Regions from separate parts of the Homo sapiens genome. Here region 2 is linked to region 1. Evidence: fine-mapped expression QTL. Tissue or cell type: monocytes. Region 1 holds a variant in brackets; the other region holds the start of a gene. All regions are shown on one strand. Distances are from middle to middle.

Region 1 (8,177 bases):
TACCGCACTGCAGACAGCACAGGCAACCTGGTGAGAGGCCTGCTCGCATTGTGGGGACTTCACGCTTGTTTCTAAGGAGTAGGCGTGGATAATCCAGGAAATGTCCAGCCTTGTTCTATCTTGTTCCAGATTCAACATCTTATCCCAATGAAGTCCTGGCCCCAGGACGCTCTCCCGGTTTGGAATAGCTGTTACAGGCTTCTTCATTCCTGCGGCGGCTCATTTCCCTATTTGGTTTTGTCCTCACTTCCGAAAAGTGAATAGGATCATCTCCTTTCTGATTTTTATTTCTCTTCTTGCCATCCATCTCTTCATCTTGTTAACTAAAAGATGACACAATCTATACATTTAGAAGAGGAGACATTCTTTCTTTTTCTTTTCTTTTTTTTTGAGATGGAGTTTCATTCTCGTCGCCCAGGCTGGAGTGGAGGGGTGTGATCTTGGCTCACTGCAACCTCTGCCTCCTGGGTTCAAGCGATTCTCCTGCCTCAGCCTCCCGAGTAGCTGGGATTACAGGCGTGCACCACCACACCCGGCTAATTTTTTTTGTATTTTCAGTGGAGATGGGGTTTCACCATGTTGCCAGGCTGGTCTCGAACTCCTGACCTTGGGTGATCCATCCGCCTGGGCCTCCCAAAGTGTTGGGATTACAGGTGTGAGCCACCATGCCCACCTAAAGACATTATTTCTTGTAAAGAGTTACACTCTGCAAGGTGGCATCCCGCAGGCTGGGAAGCACAGCCTCCCGCAGAGACCGCAGACAGGCATCTTGGAGGAGAAGGGGCAGGAGCTTTATGCTGAATGGGCTGGAGGATCATACATATTCAACAGGTTACAGGAGGAGCTGTGAATATTCATGAAGTGGTCCTGACGCATGTGTATTGAACAAACATCCACTTACATACAACCCATGTTCACCTTGGAGAGGAGACTTAACATCTACGTGCATCCCAGGCAGGCTCTGCACTTCTAAAGGTGAAACAGGGACATGAAGGCTCCCAGTGCTCAGCCTCTATCAGCCGGCCAGAGCCCATCCATGGGCTTATTCTTGTCCAGAGGAAGTTACTGAAATCGGTCTCTTGTTCCATCAAAGCTGTAGTTACGGCTGGTGGAACAGGGCCAGTTAGCCAGCATCGGGTGGTGGATAAACTACGACTTGTTTTCATCTTGCTCATCTCAAGGCCAACGCTGGTTTAGCTGCTGGAGAAGAAAACCTTGGTGGTGGTGAGGACAGAGTTTCTTATTTAGGTTCAGGGTGCGAGACTTCGCTGTAGCCTGGCCAGGCCTTAGGTCCTGTGTGTGATTTGTGTCTTATTGCCACAGTCTGTTCTCTGGTCTCACCATCTCTATTTTAACATGAATGCTGGCCAGTTGTGTCTAAATCCCAAAAGGGAGGGGGTATAGTGGGGTGTGTCTGACCTCCCGTCCATCGTGCCTGGGAACTCATTTTTTTTTTTTTTTTTTTTTTTGAGACGGAGTCTCGCTCTGTCACCCAGGCTGGAGTGTAGTGGCGCGATCTTGGCTCACTGCAAGCTCCACCTCCCAGGTTCACGCCATTCTCCTGCCTCAGCCTCCCGAGTAGCTGGGATTACAGGCGTCTGCCACCACGCCCGGCTAATTTTTTGTATTTTTATTAGAGACGGGGTTTCACTGTGTTGGACAGGTTGGTCTCGATCTCCTGACCTCATTATCTGCCCGCCTTGGCCTCCCAAAGTGCTGGGATTACAGGCTTGAGCCACTGCGCCCCGGCTGGGAACTCGTTTTTTAAGGTTGGCCAACGGGTTCCATTCAGTCAGTTGGGGGGCTCAAGATTTTACTTTAAATTTGCGATCCTTATCATTCAAGTGTAGAAGGAAGAATGGAGAGCCCGGTGAGACGCTCCGCTGGCCTCTGAGCAGCGACTGTCAGCAGATGCCCCTCCTTAGCCAGGGCCCCAGTGATGGTCTCTGTGTGTGAGCTGATTAAAAATGACGATAAAGAGGCCTCCGCTATCAGCTCATGACCCTGAACTCTCCATTTTAAAAAAGCCTAAATTGACCTCTTACAGAAGGGAAGGACGAAGAGAGACTCACTCCTCATCGGACTGGAACTAGGTGGAAGCAGGGAGGAGCTAGGCTCACAGTGACTGCGTAGCTCAGTTTATTTCCTGCAGTCCCCATTTCTGACATTCTGTCCTCTGGCCGTATATGTACAGACCACATATTCTAATGTTTGATTAGAAAATATAGCTACTAAATTCAATTCTTGCATCAAAATTGTATTTTAAAATATAAGCATGTTTAATACTGGTCTACAGAATGAGCTGGTTGCTTTGTTTGTACACAGAGCTCACATTAAGCCTCACGTCCAATCGTGGCTTCCGTCCACTGTGATGGGCGGATTCTTCCTAGGGGCCTCCCCTGGCCGTCTCTCACTGTGAACGCCACCCCTGTCTCCCGCCCACACCACTGCAACCTGCCTTACAAACTCCCCCGCTCTCCTTCCAGCCCAGCACAAGCTCAGGACGCCAGACGTCCACACTGCCCAAGCTGCTGTGGTTCACCCAAGACTTTGGAGGAAATATTCCTTCTTAAATTTGTGTCAATAAGCCAGACAGCTTTCCAGCTCCTTAGAAGTAGTTATCCTGTGGAGTGTGGACTTCATTCTTTACCTCCTTAAATTAAGATGAAATTTAGAAAGGCAAACCGGGCTGCAGTGGGCACCTGACTGCACAGAGTGGCTGCTGATTTGCTGATTTGCAGGAGATTAAACCCAATCCGAGATGGAGGGGGTCTCATTTCTGCGCTTACATCGTCATGCATGTGGTTGGACTTGTGTGCATGCGTGTGGACCTGCGTGCCTGTGTGTGCACGTGTGCTTCTGCGAGCTCTTCAGAGAGCCTGTAGAGGCTGGTGGTTACGAACTGAGGGATGTAAATGAGCCACTGTGGGCTCCATGACCTTTCTTTCCCTGCCTGTCCCCCAAGGAGGGGCGTGTGAGGTAACCACTGCAGACGTTTTCCTGCGTGTCCACAAGGAGATCGTCTGGTTCTATTGATGGAGGTGTTTTCCCTAGTTCTGTGGTGAAGTTGGCAGCTTCAGACATTTTGTTCTCATGACGCAGCTCTGACAACTAAGATGGGCTCCCCTGCCTCGGCCGGGCTCCTCGGTTTCCCGAGAGTGAGGCCTCTGTTGGTCGATCGTGTTACCGGGTGGCTGTGAGTTACGCAACTCACGAAAACATCTCATCCGGATGGGCATGGGGCGGGAGGGTGACCCCAGGAGCTATGAGTAACTTCCCAGCATGCCGGCTTCTTGCGCGTTCCCAGAGCCTGGTGTGTGATACCCCAGGTGGGCGGGTGGATGGCTGGAGTCTGGTTCTAGTCACACAGACCAAGAATGCGACATTTAGATGTGATCTAAAAACAGCCATTTTTCCAAAAGCTGTTTACTTTGGAAAGTGTATCAGGCAGCAGTTTCTGGAGACCTGTAATCGTTTTATGATTTATGCAGTGAAAACCTAATTACAAAAAGGACGGGCGCGGTGGCTTACGCCTGTAATCCCAGCACTTCAGGAGGCCGAGGCAGGAGGATCACTTGAGGAGTTTGAGACCAGCCTGGCTAACATGGTGAAACGCCATCTCTACTAAAAATACAAAAATTAGCCGAGCAGGGTGGTAGGCACCTGTGGTCCCAGATACTGAGGTGCTGAGGTGGGAGGATCACTTGAGCCCGAGAGGCATGACAGGTGTGTACAGGGGCTGAGCGGCAGGTACTTTCTGAATCTCAAGGGAAGACCTGCAGCCCGTGGGCACTTCACGGGCCATGGATGGAGCGCCTGTTGTCAGCGGCGTGGGAGAACTCTAGGGATGGGGCTGTGCTGAGGCCAGCGGCCTGCAGGTGCACGGCCAGTGAGCTGGGCTCTTTCCAGCAACACCTTCAGGAGACTCTGGTGGTTTCTTTTCTCCCTCATTCTCTGACAAAGAAGACGCTGGGATGCGCCATGCATCCCACATCTGAGAAATGCTTGCCTCCTGTGTGCTGGACACTGGGCCAGGCGCTGGCGAAGGGATAGGGTGGTGGAGCCAGTTTATCCTGAAAGTCCCTTTGCACACATCTCTTATTACATGTGTGTTGAGACCGAAAATAAAGTCTGGAACCAGGGTGTCACAGATGAGGGTCACAGACACACAGCAGATATAGCATGGTGCTCCCAGCAGAGATGGAGCTCCCAGCAAAGATGCAGGAGAGCATGTACAGTCCCTGGACTCAGCCTATGTGCAGCAAGAAATTCATTAGGGGATCTCTGGCCCCGGGTGCCACCTGGGAGCATGTGTGTGCAGGGCCACCTGGCCAGCGAGGGCCCTAGGATGGCCTGACCCGTCAGGGATGCTGACAGCAGGGCTGGCTCAGTCACCGAAAGGGGAAACAAAGGCTCTCCGGGGCCTCCCTGGGGCTTGCACCATCCTGAGGTCTTCAGACCCCCTTGGAGACGGAAGGGAGGTGGCCGAGTGGCCTGTGGCGTGGGGCTCCTTTGCTGTTCCTTGCAACTTGGGGGTCTCTGACTCTTGGAGCTGGGTGACAGGTGGGGATTTTTGCTCCTCTAATGGTCTTTGGATGATAAACTCCCAACTGACGCTCCAGGCTGGTGTCTTTACAATGCATGCTCTGAGGAAAGCTAGTCTGTGAAGCCATGCATTGAAAGGGTTCTATTATGGGTTGGGAGTCTGAGTCCCTCTTGGGGAGAGCC[G/T]TCGTGCAGGGAGCAGCTGGAGGCCTCGGGGCTGTGCTTAGCTTTGCTTCCCCAGCTTTGCTGACCCCAGTGAGCTCTTTCCCACGTGGTACCTGTCAGCAGTGCAACGGGAAGTTCTGTGTGTGTTAAACCACACAGGGGGTTCAGAGCTATCCCCAGGGCAGACCTGGAGTTTTTTCTGGTGTTCCTTAAAAGCATCTGATGAATATTGGGATGAATTTCCTGAAGAACTTGGAGGAGACTTTCTCCTTTCTGAAAATTAAACGTTCAGATCAGCACATGATAGGAATCTGGGTGGTGGAGGAGAAGATGTGGGTCAGTCTCCCCAGTGCCCCAAATCCAGTGAAATGACAACAATTTTTTAAAAAATTAAGTGTGTTGTTTTAAAAAATACAACCACAAGTTTCTGACGATCTCCCTCAATTTATCCTCCCCTTCAGCATGGTCTCTGTTGGTCACTTGTTTCTAATGAGTAGGAAGCGGCTGAGGTGGCTGTGGGTGGCCTCTGTTGGCATGTAGTTTCCTGCTTGCTCTCAGACATTGCGCTCTGGGGAAGCTGGCTGCCACGTCCGCAGGACACTTGTGCAGCTCTCTGGGGAGGTCTGAGGCCTCTGCCAGCAGTGCTGCTGGCTCGGGGTGTGTGGAAGCAGGTCCTCCAGCCCCCGTTGAGCCTTCAGATGATGCAGCCCCAGCCGTCACCTTGAGGGCAACCTCAGGAGAGCCCCACACCACCCAGCTAACCCGGAGACTGCAGGCGAGAATGTATGTTCCTGTCATAAGGCACAAGTTTCAGAGCAGTGTTGTTACATGGCGTAGGTAACTGGTGCCTAAGTGTGACTCCCTAACCACAGTGCTCACCTCCACTCAAGAAACTGCTGACGGTGGATCAGACATCTTGACAAAGAGAAACCAATGGAACAGACATCTGAGAAATAGGAGAAGAGCTGTCCTAGTCAGGCAACGTCCGGCCTCGGAGTGGATGGGGAAGGATGGAGGCAGACAGGTGGGATCGCAGTGGGGGGTGCATTCTGTCCCCGCTCCCCAGGCTGTGCGGACCCACAGGGCAGAGGCTGCCGGCCTGCTGTTCCCTCCTGCACAGTGCCTGGGGCGCCAGGCTCATGGGGTGCTCTCAGTGGAGAGGTTAGAGGGACTAGGAAGGAAGACCTCTTGTCCCAGGCAACCTGCAGAGGCCGGGAGCCCTGGGGGGAGGTCCTGGGAGGAGCCCTGGGGGGAGGTCCTGGGAGGAGCCCTGAGGGAGGCTCTGGCCCTGCATCTGCCTGGAGCTTTGCCCAGGATTGCCGTTCTCGTCTTCCCAGGATTCCGACTCTGTGCTTCGAAATGTCGTTACACGATCTCTTCTGTTGTCTTAGTTGGGGCTCTTTTTGTTACAAGTGACAGAAGCCCAATGTGAAGGAGCCTGTGCCTGGGGGTGCCTGCCCTGGGGGATCAGGGACCAAGCCACGTCTGCTCACGGTGGGACACAGTGTAGACACAGTGTTGACGTCTTAAAGCCTTACTTCTCATTCCATTACGCAGAGGAGTGACTTCAGCTGCCAGCCCTGGTCCCCAAGGCTCCAGGAGAGGTTCTGTGGGACTAGACCCAGGTCAGCGGCTCTGACAGGGACAGGATCGCGCAGCGCAGACATGGCCGTCGGCTGAAGGGCCTCCTGTGGTGCGCAGGCCACTGCCGGCTCATGTCCAGGTCATCTCTCCCGCGCTGCAAATCCTGCTTGCCCAAAGTAAAAATGGAGCGTGTAAAGTTAGCACGGTGGACATTTGTGCACTTATGGGACAGAGGAGGCTTGAACTTCATTCCGAGGGGAAAGAAGCCAGCCCTGGCTTTCTTACTCTGTTAGATAACCCTGTCTCTCTAGGTTTCAAAAATATCTTCATCCCATCGCAAGTGACCAGGAGGGACTTCTGGGCCTCACCCAACTCACTACCGCAGTGAGTCGCTAGTACTGGTAAGATGACCTGTGGGTTGGGTCAAGGGCTCCCGGAGTCCTCTGCCTGCTATGATGCGTGAAGTTCTTCCATTCACCATGTCTCTCAGTGAAACTCGGTCCCACAAGCCCCTCCGGGAGAGCTGGTTTTGTCCCCTGAGTGCCGAGATGCATAAGAAAGTGGCTGGTGGGTTCCTCAGGACGCCACAGTCCAGTGAGGAGAGCAGAGGGTGCAGCAGCCCTTACGGCCGGGTGAGGGGTACGGGGGCTCCAGGCAGGCACAGCTGCTGAGAGAGAGGGGTCGGGGCAGTCGTCACCATCAAGTGGATGGCTGAGGCAGGACGTCCCTGCGGGCTGATTGTCCCTGGTCCTGACCAGATTTGCTGTGACCACCTGGCTGGGCCCTGAAGAGGGCAGAGGAATTGCTCAGGTGGGGCCAGGGCACAGGGCTGAGGCCTGCAGTCGGGCCGTGCCAGGTTGCAGATAACATCCGGGGCACCCCTGAGCAGGCGGCTCTTCTGAATCGCTCTGTGTTTTGCTCTCTGTTTTCTGCCTTGGGAAGTGATTATTTTTCAAAACATTCTCTTAAACGTGGCGGGGGCAGGGCACTAGAAGCATCCAGGCATGAAGACAGCCCCCAGGTCAGCAGGGCTGGGGAAGCTGGGCTGGGCGGGGGCTGGAGGACAGGAGGCTGTGCTCCTATCACGGTCTGTCCCTGGCGTGAGCAGTGCAGGTGTGACAGTTCTGGGGTGGAGCTTACTTTTCAACTGAAACCACTTTCCCATGGACGTGCTTGCCTGCCTGCCTTTATTATTATAGTTTAATGTGTTTCATTGTCCATGTTAAAAATGCTTGTGTTTATTTTGCACCAACTGTTCAAAAAAACCCACCCATTCTAAAATCCAAATAGGATTTCATCTGAGTTATAAACCCACCCATTCTAAAATCCAAATAGGATTTCATCTGAGTTATAAACCCACCCATTCTAAAATCCAAATAGGATTTCATCTGAGTTATAAATACAACAGCCTGGCAAAGGGCAAGTCAATGGAATCAATACGATCTGCCCTAGCGTCCGCGTATTTTCCAGCCTGCTCCATTGCTAATCACTCCTGAAGCCTCCTTGGTGCCCCGGCTTTATTGATTGCCTCTGCAGAAGAATGTGTGTGTGTGGGGTCCCCAAGGACACAAGGACGCCACTGGCAGGGCCAGAGACAGAGGCATGCTCTCCAGAGGCCTGTCCTGCTGCTGCTGCTGCTGAGCAGGACTTTGGGCCAGCGGCCACCCATGATGACATTGAAGCTGGCCCCAGAGATCCCAGGATAGAGGCCCCAGGGCAGCACTGCCTGCTCCACCTCCACAGAGAAACATCCCTGTGAGCTTGGGGTGTGGAGAAGACGAGGGAGGAGCCCTCCGTGGATGCCTTGGGCTTGGAGGTGTCTGCATGGATGAAGGCTCAGATGGAATCACCCCAGTTCTGCTGCTGCAGTAGCTGTGTGGCCGTGG
Region 2 (8,177 bases), 27 kb before region 1:
AGCAGTTTGGATCTTCCTGTTCTTCTGTGGCTCTACTGTATCCCTATATGGTTTGTTAACGCGCCCCTGGGTTGGGAGCATATCACAAAGCCCAGACGGATAACAGTCTGCGCAGGTCTGCGGCGATGGCGACCATCTGTCTTTCAAAACATCTAAACAGATTCTTCCCAAGTGTCTTACATCGGGGTGATAAATTCTGGTCATGAAACATATTTTTGGGCTGCTGCTGGCTATTCTTCTGGAAGAGACAGTTCAAGTTCCAAAGATTCCTCTTCAAAGGAGGAATCCCATGGGCCGGCAATGTCCGTATGAAGTAATGAGTGCTGTTCTCATCTGATTCTGCCCGCTTGAACTCCTGCCAGCAGCAAGTGCTGGGCTGCCTTGGCAATTCCTCAGAGCCTCTCCATCATCTTGCTTTTCTAAAGTATGTTTTTTATGGCATAAAACTGTTTCCCCCATACCTAATAGGAAAAAAGGAACAGCTACTGAAGACAGAGGCTGACAAATGGTAGATACATAATGGTGTGGGGCTGCCGCAGCCTGGGGGTGGGAGGGGAACCGGAAGCACTCTTCCAATTTCAAGATGAAGTTTATTCTACGATGGGATGAAACCCACATCATTACTTCTTGTACTCGATTTTAGCAGTTATGTGTACAGGCTGTTGGGCTGGGCTCCCCAAGCTCAAATACCAGCTTTGTCACTTCTGGTTGTGTGACCATAAGTTACTTCACCTGTTTGTGTCCTAGTTGTCTCATTTGTTTTTAAGTGATATGGGGTCTTGCTGTGTTGCCCAGACTGGTCTCAAACTCCTGGGCTCAAGCAGTCCTCCTGCCTCAGCCTCCCATGTCTCATCTTTAAAATGTGGATAATAAGTCATACCAACTTCACAGTGTAATCATGAGGAGTAAAAATAATAATATGCATCAAATCTTTAAAATGTTACCCAGCACACACTACTATTATTATTGTCACAATTACTATTTTCTTTTTAATAAAAATATTTTTTGTAGAGATGGGGTCTTGCTGTATTGCCCAGGCTGATCTGGAACTCCTGGCCTCAAGTGATCCTCCCACCTTGGCCTCCCAAAGTGTTGGGATTACAGGCATGAGCCACAGCACCCAGCCTAGTACTACTATTTTCTAGTAAATGAGAAGCATTAGATATGAGATAGGAGTGCAGTTACAGTAAGACAGTAAAGACTATTTGGAGTGTTCCTCATCCTATCCCTTCATTCAACAAACTTTTAAAAAAATTGTCTACTATGTACCAAGCACTGAAGGACTAATAAGACACATTCTCTGACCTCAAGGTATATGCGGCACTCAGCAATACAGACAAATCCATTCATTCAGCAAGTACCAAACAACACATGGAGTGGTCAGTCCTTTGGTGAAAAGACATCAAGTCAACATGTCCTTACAAACTCTAAGCTAGCACCATGGCAGTGTTTCACACGGAGAGCCCATCTAGTTGTCTAGGGAGTGGTCAGAGAAGGCTTCTCTACGAAAGGGATAGTTAAGCTGAAATTAGAATTTTGTATAGGAGAAAAGTACTTGGAGGAAGGAAGAGCATTTTCAGTGGAAAAACTGCATGGGTGAAGGGCCCAAAGGAAGGAGGAGCATATGACTCAAATACACTGAAAGGCCAAAGTATCTGGAGGACAGAGAACAAGAAAGGAGGGCGATGGGCTGTGAGGTGGTCAGGCCGAGGCTATAGAAAGGAGGGTTGAAGCAGAAAAGGGGCTTGACTGGATTCCATGTTTTTTTGTTTGTTTGTTTTTTGAGACAGAGTCTTGCTCTGTCACCCAGGCTACAGTGCAGTGGTACAATCTCAACTCACTGCAACTTCAGACTCCCAGGCTCAAGCAATCCTCCTGTCTCAGCCTGCAGAGTAGCTGGGACTAGCGGTGCAAACCACCACGGCCAGCTAATTTTTGTACTTTTAGTAGAGACGGGGTTTCACCATGTTGCCTCGGCTGGTCAAGTGATCTACCCTCTTTGGGCTCCCGAAGTGCTGGAATTACAGGCGTGAGCCACAGTGCCTGGCATCTGGCTCCTATTTTTAAAAGGTCACTCTGGGTGCTGTGCATAGAATGGATTGCACTGGGGCAAAAATGGAAGCGGTGTGAGGAGGGGGAATTTCAGTAGTCAATTCCATCAGGCAAGAAAAGACTGCAGAAAGAGTTGGGCTGGAGAGAAGTGAATGGATTTGCGGTGTGTTTCGAAGGTCAAAGCAACATGACTTGCTGATAGATTGGATTGGATCTTGAGGGTGAGGAAAAGCAAAACTGAGAGTACACCTAGATTTTTTTATTAAGCCACTGGGCAGTCAGTGCTGCCGTTCACTGAGACGGGAAAGGTTAGGGAGAAGCATGTTTGGGGGTGTGTGTGGGGAATCAGTTGTTTTGGCCATGTTAGGTTTGACACACTGATTAGCCATGTATGTGACAACACCAACTGGATACTCAAGCCTGAGGTTCTGGAATGAGGTCCAGGTTGGAGATGTGGCTGCAGGAGCCGGCAGCACAGCATGGAAAGTCGCCTGGAGTGAGTGGATAGGAACAGGACGAGGAGAGTCTGGAACGCTCCACTAACCAGTGGTTAGAGGAGCAGGAGCTAGGAGGGGCCTGGGAAGGAGCAGCCAAGATGCCCTCATGAAGGAAAATGAGAAAATGTTTCAAGAAGGGCGTGGGCAACTGTGACGAATGTTGCTGGTAAGAACAGAAGTGCCATGATTGGATCTGGCAATATGGCAGTCATTAGCAGTTCCCCAGTGGTGAGAAGCGAAGCCTTATTGCAGTGGCTTAAGGAGAAAATGCGAGGTGCGAGATTGCCATTAGATTCTTGCATGAAGGTTTGTCATGAGTGCTGCAGAAAAATGGGCAATGGCGTCTAAGGTGTGTTCTTGAAGGATGAGTAGTAACTGGTCAAGTGAAGAGGTGGAGAGGTAGGCTCTCTAAGGAGGATGTATTTGCAAAGCCATTAGAGCAAGGGAACAGAAATGAAATAAGTGTGTATTTTTCTTGCAATATTTCTGGAAGTTCAAGAGTCAATTGCATGCATTGGGGTTGTGCTCTTACAGCAGTCTCATTTAAATCCTGTCTGCTTTATCGTTATTTGTTAAAGAGACTGAGGGAATGGCTGAGATAATCTGATCTTTTTCAACTCGTTGGTTTGAAAAGACATCTAGGATGGTCAAGCGGCTGGACTTTATTAGCTACATTGAAAAATTCAGAATGGGATAGGGGAAGCTTGTTTTTATTCTAAGACTAGCACATTACAGTGTATGGGGAAGGGAGAAACGATGAAAAGAGGAAACAAGAGGAAGTTTAAAAAGTACAGGGTAGCACTGCAGAATGCCGACACTGCAAAAGTCTGGCGAGCGGGGAGGTGGAGGACAATGTCTCACCTGGGATCCGAGCTGTGAAGTCTCAACTGTGCCCATATGGACTGCATGAGCTTAACAAAATCCTTATTCTTTTTTTTTTTTTTTTGCATTTGCTTTCCATACTCTAAACACGTTTAACGTCGTTTGCCTCACAAGATTGCTCTGAAGGTGCAGGGAGACCGCGGCAGCACACACAAGGCACGTGCGATGCCTACGGTGAGCTTCACCTGCCCGGCGCGTCTGGCGAACGGCTGGCCCCGGGCCGCGGGCCTCAGGCAGGTCCGAGGGTGCCCAGGACAGGGTCGGGGCTTGAATGCCTTTGCTTCCGAAAACAGCGGAGCCGTGGGGCCTCCCCCGCGCCGGCCCTGCCTCCAACCAGCCGCCCAATCCCGGCTCCCATGCGCGTCCACGCCTCCCTATAAGATAAAGCGCGGCCGACGGGCTCCGAGCGCGGCCCCTGGGTTCGAACACGGCACCCGCACTGCGCGTCATGGTGCAGGCCTGGTATATGGACGACGCCCCGGGCGACCCGCGGCAACCCCACCGCCCCGACCCCGGCCGCCCAGTGGGCCTGGAGCAGCTGCGGCGGCTCGGGGTGCTCTACTGGAAGGTACGCGAGCCCAAGCCTCGCAGAGCGTGCGGGCGACGCCGACCCCCAAACGCCGCGCACAGCCCAGCCTCCTCCAGGTGCCGGGCAGCGGCCTGGGAGCCGCGGCATGCTGCGCATGCTCAGCAGCGGGATTTGGGGGTTCGTGGCGGCTCCCGGTGCCTGGGGTGGGCTGCGCATGCTCAGCAGTGGGGCTGGGTGGTCAGGGCCTCCTGCGCGGCGCCTGGGTGTGCTGCGCATGCTCAGCAGCGGCGTTGAGGGGTCGGCGGTCAGCCCCCAGCGCCTGTGGTGTGCTGCGCATGCTCAGCAGCGAAGTTTACGGGGTTGGCGGTCGGCTTCCGGCGCCTGGGGTGGGCTGCGCATGCTCAGCAGCGGGGCTGGTGGGGGTCGGCGGTCCGTTTCTGTTGCCTGGGGTGTGCTGCGCATGCTCAGCAGCAGAGTTGGCGAGTCAGGGGCCTCGCAGCCGGGACTCGCTGCGCACGCGCAGCTCCGGGATTGGCAGCGACCTGAAGGGTCGGCCGGCAGGGCTGCAAGATTCGCCGGAGGCGGGCTGCGAGTTCGTGGGCTCGTTGGGCTTGTCCGACGCCCTGCCTGCCTGGCTAACCTCGGTCAAAGGCCCAGGGGTTTCTTCTATCGGAGGAAGGGGGACTCCGCTTGAAAGTGTCCTGGGGGAGGGACCGGGCGCCAGCAGATCGAGGCGGGGTCCTGCCGCGGTCTGTCGGGGATCCCCGGGGGGTAGCGCTCGGTGGTGGGGTGGGGGCGTCTCCAGTGGGCGGTGGAGCTGGCTTGGGTCCCGGCTGGGCCCGGTGTCAGCCCTGCCTCTGTAACGCTAGCTTTGCAAGGCGGGGCTAGGCTTTGCACCGGTGTCCCGTTGCTTGCACAGCACCAGTCCAGATCCGCTCACCTTGTTTATTTGCAAATGGTTTTGCAGTAACAAAGGTTTACTGCAAAAGAGAGGGCCAGGGTAGGCCTCAGGGATAGGCTGAGGGGTGACTGGATCTAATCTTCATTCATGTGATTTAAATGAAATACACAGGGTTACCTGGACACCACACTTTTTCCCTTGGGAAAGGATTATAGAATATTCCAGCATAATCTATTTGGATATCATCTTGTTCTATCCTAAATAACAGAAGAGGGAAGTGACAATTGGCATACCAGTGCGAAACAGGGCATGCATGTTAATGTTTACATAGTATTTGTCTTTTCCTAGGATAAGGTTTAACACTTACCTTGCTGGAGGGTACTTCTTCAAAGCAATCAAGTGGTTTATAGTTTTCCATTAATGAGAGGAGAATAAATTTTGACTTATTATGTTTATCCACAATCCAAACAACCAGAGGGTTCAAATTAATACACTTGGGGAGTTTCATTGTGCATTTGACGGTTTTAAGAACAAGAACAAGAGTGAGATTACAGGTCAGCTTCTTAATGTATTCAAAGAATAAAATAAGATTTATTTTAATAGACATCTTTTAGATTATTACATGGGCTCAAACATAGTTTTTCCTACCGTCTAGTTCTGCTCTGAGTCAGGGCTATCAAAATTAAATCATGTTTACTCTGTGGTTTTAATGTCCTGTGTGTTTTTATATTCTTCCTTTCTTTTTTTTTTTTGCTCTTTTTGCCCAGGCTGGAGTGCAGTGGCATGATCTCGGCTCACCGCAACCTCATCTTCCCGAGTTCAAGCCATTCTCATGTGTCAGCCTCCCGAGTAGCTGGGATTACAAGGTGCACAGCACCATGCCGGGCTAATTTTGTATTTTTAGTAGAGACAGGGTTTCTCCATGTTGGTCAGGCTGATCTTGAACTGCTGACCTCAGGTGATCCACCCACTTCGGCCTCCCAAAGTGCTGGCATTATAGACACGAACCACCGCACCCGGCCTATATGCTTTCTTAATATCCATTCTGGATCAGTGCTGTTGGAAGACAAAATTACAACAAATTTAGTTAAAGATCTAATTAGCTTTTATTCTTGATTTGTGAATAGGGCAACCTCCGTTCTACAAAATAGAATAAGAGCTCGATAGGGTAATAGCACAACAGTGGGTTTTGTAGGGCGGCAACAAAGAAACAGAACAATAGGTAGAAAAGCTGATTGGTTAACGTCAAGTTACATTAGGTTACTTTTTTCCTAAGGGTTAAAGCAGAAGCGACTTCCTTATTATTCTGACTCAGGAAGACTGGAATCTTCTGATCGCAGGAAAAGCTGGTCTGTTTGAGATGCACCTCCTTCTTTAAAGTTTTAGTTTGATCAAGTGGCATATGGCATGAGTGGCTGCATTTTGGTTTGGTCTCATCCTGGGGCCTAGTGCAGGGGCTCAGTCCAAAACAGTGACCTCTCCTGGGCCAGGCATGGTGGCTTCTGTCATCCCAGCACTTTGGGAGGCTGAGGCGGCAGATTGCCTGAAGCCAGAAGTTTGAGACCTCATCTCTAAAAAAACCCAAAAAACAAAAAAGCCACACACACACCCCATATTAACATTATATATATGTAACATCTCCCATAATTTTTAACAGAGGTAACACATGTGGACATGTTTGTGTATCTGTTTAATCAATCTGTTATTAGTGACATAGAGTTCTAAAAAACCTTTTGTCATACATACAAACAATTGGAAGATTATTTTAGCTTGGAATAAACTAAATACCTGCTGCTATAACAAAATGACAAAAATAGCTTAAACTGGGCAATTTATAAACAACAGCAATTTATAGAATTCTTATAGTTCTAGAGGCTAAGAAGTCCAAGATTAAGGTGCCAGCAGATTTAGTGTCTGATGAGGATCCTGTCCTCATAGACGGCCATTTCCTTGCTCTGTCCTCATGTGGTGGAAGGGGCAAACTGCTCTCTTACATCTCTCTTGCTCTTTTTTTTTTTTTTTTTTTTTTTTGAGATGGAGCCTCGCTCTGTCACCCAGGCTGGTAGCGCAGTCTTGGCTCACTGCAACCTCTGCCTCCTGGATTCAAGTGATTCTCCTGCCTCAGCCTCCCGAGTAGCTGGGATCACAGGCGTGGACCACCATGCCTGGCTAATTTTTGTATTTTTAGTAGAGATGGGGTTTCACCATGTTGGACAGGCTGGTCTTGAACCCCTGACCTCAGGTGATCTGCCCACCTTGGCCTCCCAAAGTTCTGGGATTATAGGTGTGAGCCACAGTGCCCAGCTCCATCTCTCTTACAAGGCCACTAATCCTATAAATGAGGGCTTGCCCTCATGACTTAATCACATCCTAAAGGTCCCACCCCTTAATACTATCACATTTGTGTTAAGTTTCAACATTCGTATATTTAAACTTATGACACGTGTCATATAATGTGTCATATTACATATTATGTGTCATAATATGGACACATTCAGACCATAGCAAATAGTACTGTGCATATCATGCAGTGGATAGGCTAAGTTTTAGAGTCAACTTTGTAGAAAATAACGTATTGATGACTAGTACTTTAATATGTTCTGGAGTATCGGGGGAACCCACCCCCAATATTTCAACATAGGTTCCATTTTCCATAAGTGTCGGCCAGCTGAGAAATAAAGAGAGACAGTATAAAGAGAGGAATTTTACAGCTGGGCCGCCAGGGGTGACATCACATATCGGTAGGACCGTGATGCCCGCCTGAGTCTCAGACCAGCAAGTTTTTATTAAGGGTTTCAAAAGGGGAGGGGGTGTAAGAACAGGGAGTAGGTACAAATATCACAGGCTTCAAAGGGCAAAAAGCAGAACTACTAATAAGGGTCTAACAAAGATCACATGCTTCTGAGGGAACAGGACAAAGGGCAAAAGCAGAACCACTGATAAGGGTCCAACAAAGATCACAGGGCAAAGGGCAAAAGCAGAACCACTGATAAAGATCTATGTTCAGTGCTGCACATATTGTCTTGATAAACATCTTAAATAACAGAAAACAGGGTTCGAGAGCAGAGAACTGGTCTGACCACAAATTTACCAGGGTGGAGTTTTTCCCCACCTTAGTAAGCCTGAGGGTACTGCAGAAGACCAGGGCGTATCTCAGTCCTTATCTCAACCGCATAAGACAGACATTCCCAGAGCAGCTGTTTATAGACCTCCCCCCAGAAATGCATTCCTTCCCCAGAGTATTAATATTAATATTCCTTCCTAGGAAAAGAATTTAGTGATACCTTCTCTACTTGCACGCCCATTTATAGGCTCT

Evidence for each region. PIP is the estimated chance that this variant, and not a neighbour inherited with it, causes the effect.
Region 2: it holds the start of ADI1, and the variant in region 1 is fine-mapped to the expression of ADI1 in monocytes (TOPMed, PIP 0.94).

The regions. Positions count from the first base shown.
Region 1 is chr2:3,488,118-3,496,294 of GRCh38, reverse strand. No RefSeq gene overlaps it. Among named protein-coding and RNA genes, the nearest start is that of TRAPPC12-AS1, 9.0 kb to the right of the region's middle. The variant G/T (reference allele first, on the strand shown) is at 4,729.
Region 2 is chr2:3,515,190-3,523,366 of GRCh38, reverse strand. It overlaps ADI1 (acireductone dioxygenase 1), which reads left to right and starts at 3,836. Exons shown (of 4, transcript NM_018269.4): 1 at 3,836-3,999. The coding sequence starts at 3,880. LOC124907725 (a long non-coding RNA gene) reads right to left here and starts at 3,821. Exons shown (of 2, transcript XR_007086195.1): 1 at 3,411-3,821; 2 at 1-461. RefSeq lists enhancers at 3,128-3,648, 3,649-4,170 and silencers at 3,590-3,719, 3,790-4,109, 4,190-4,249, 4,730-4,929.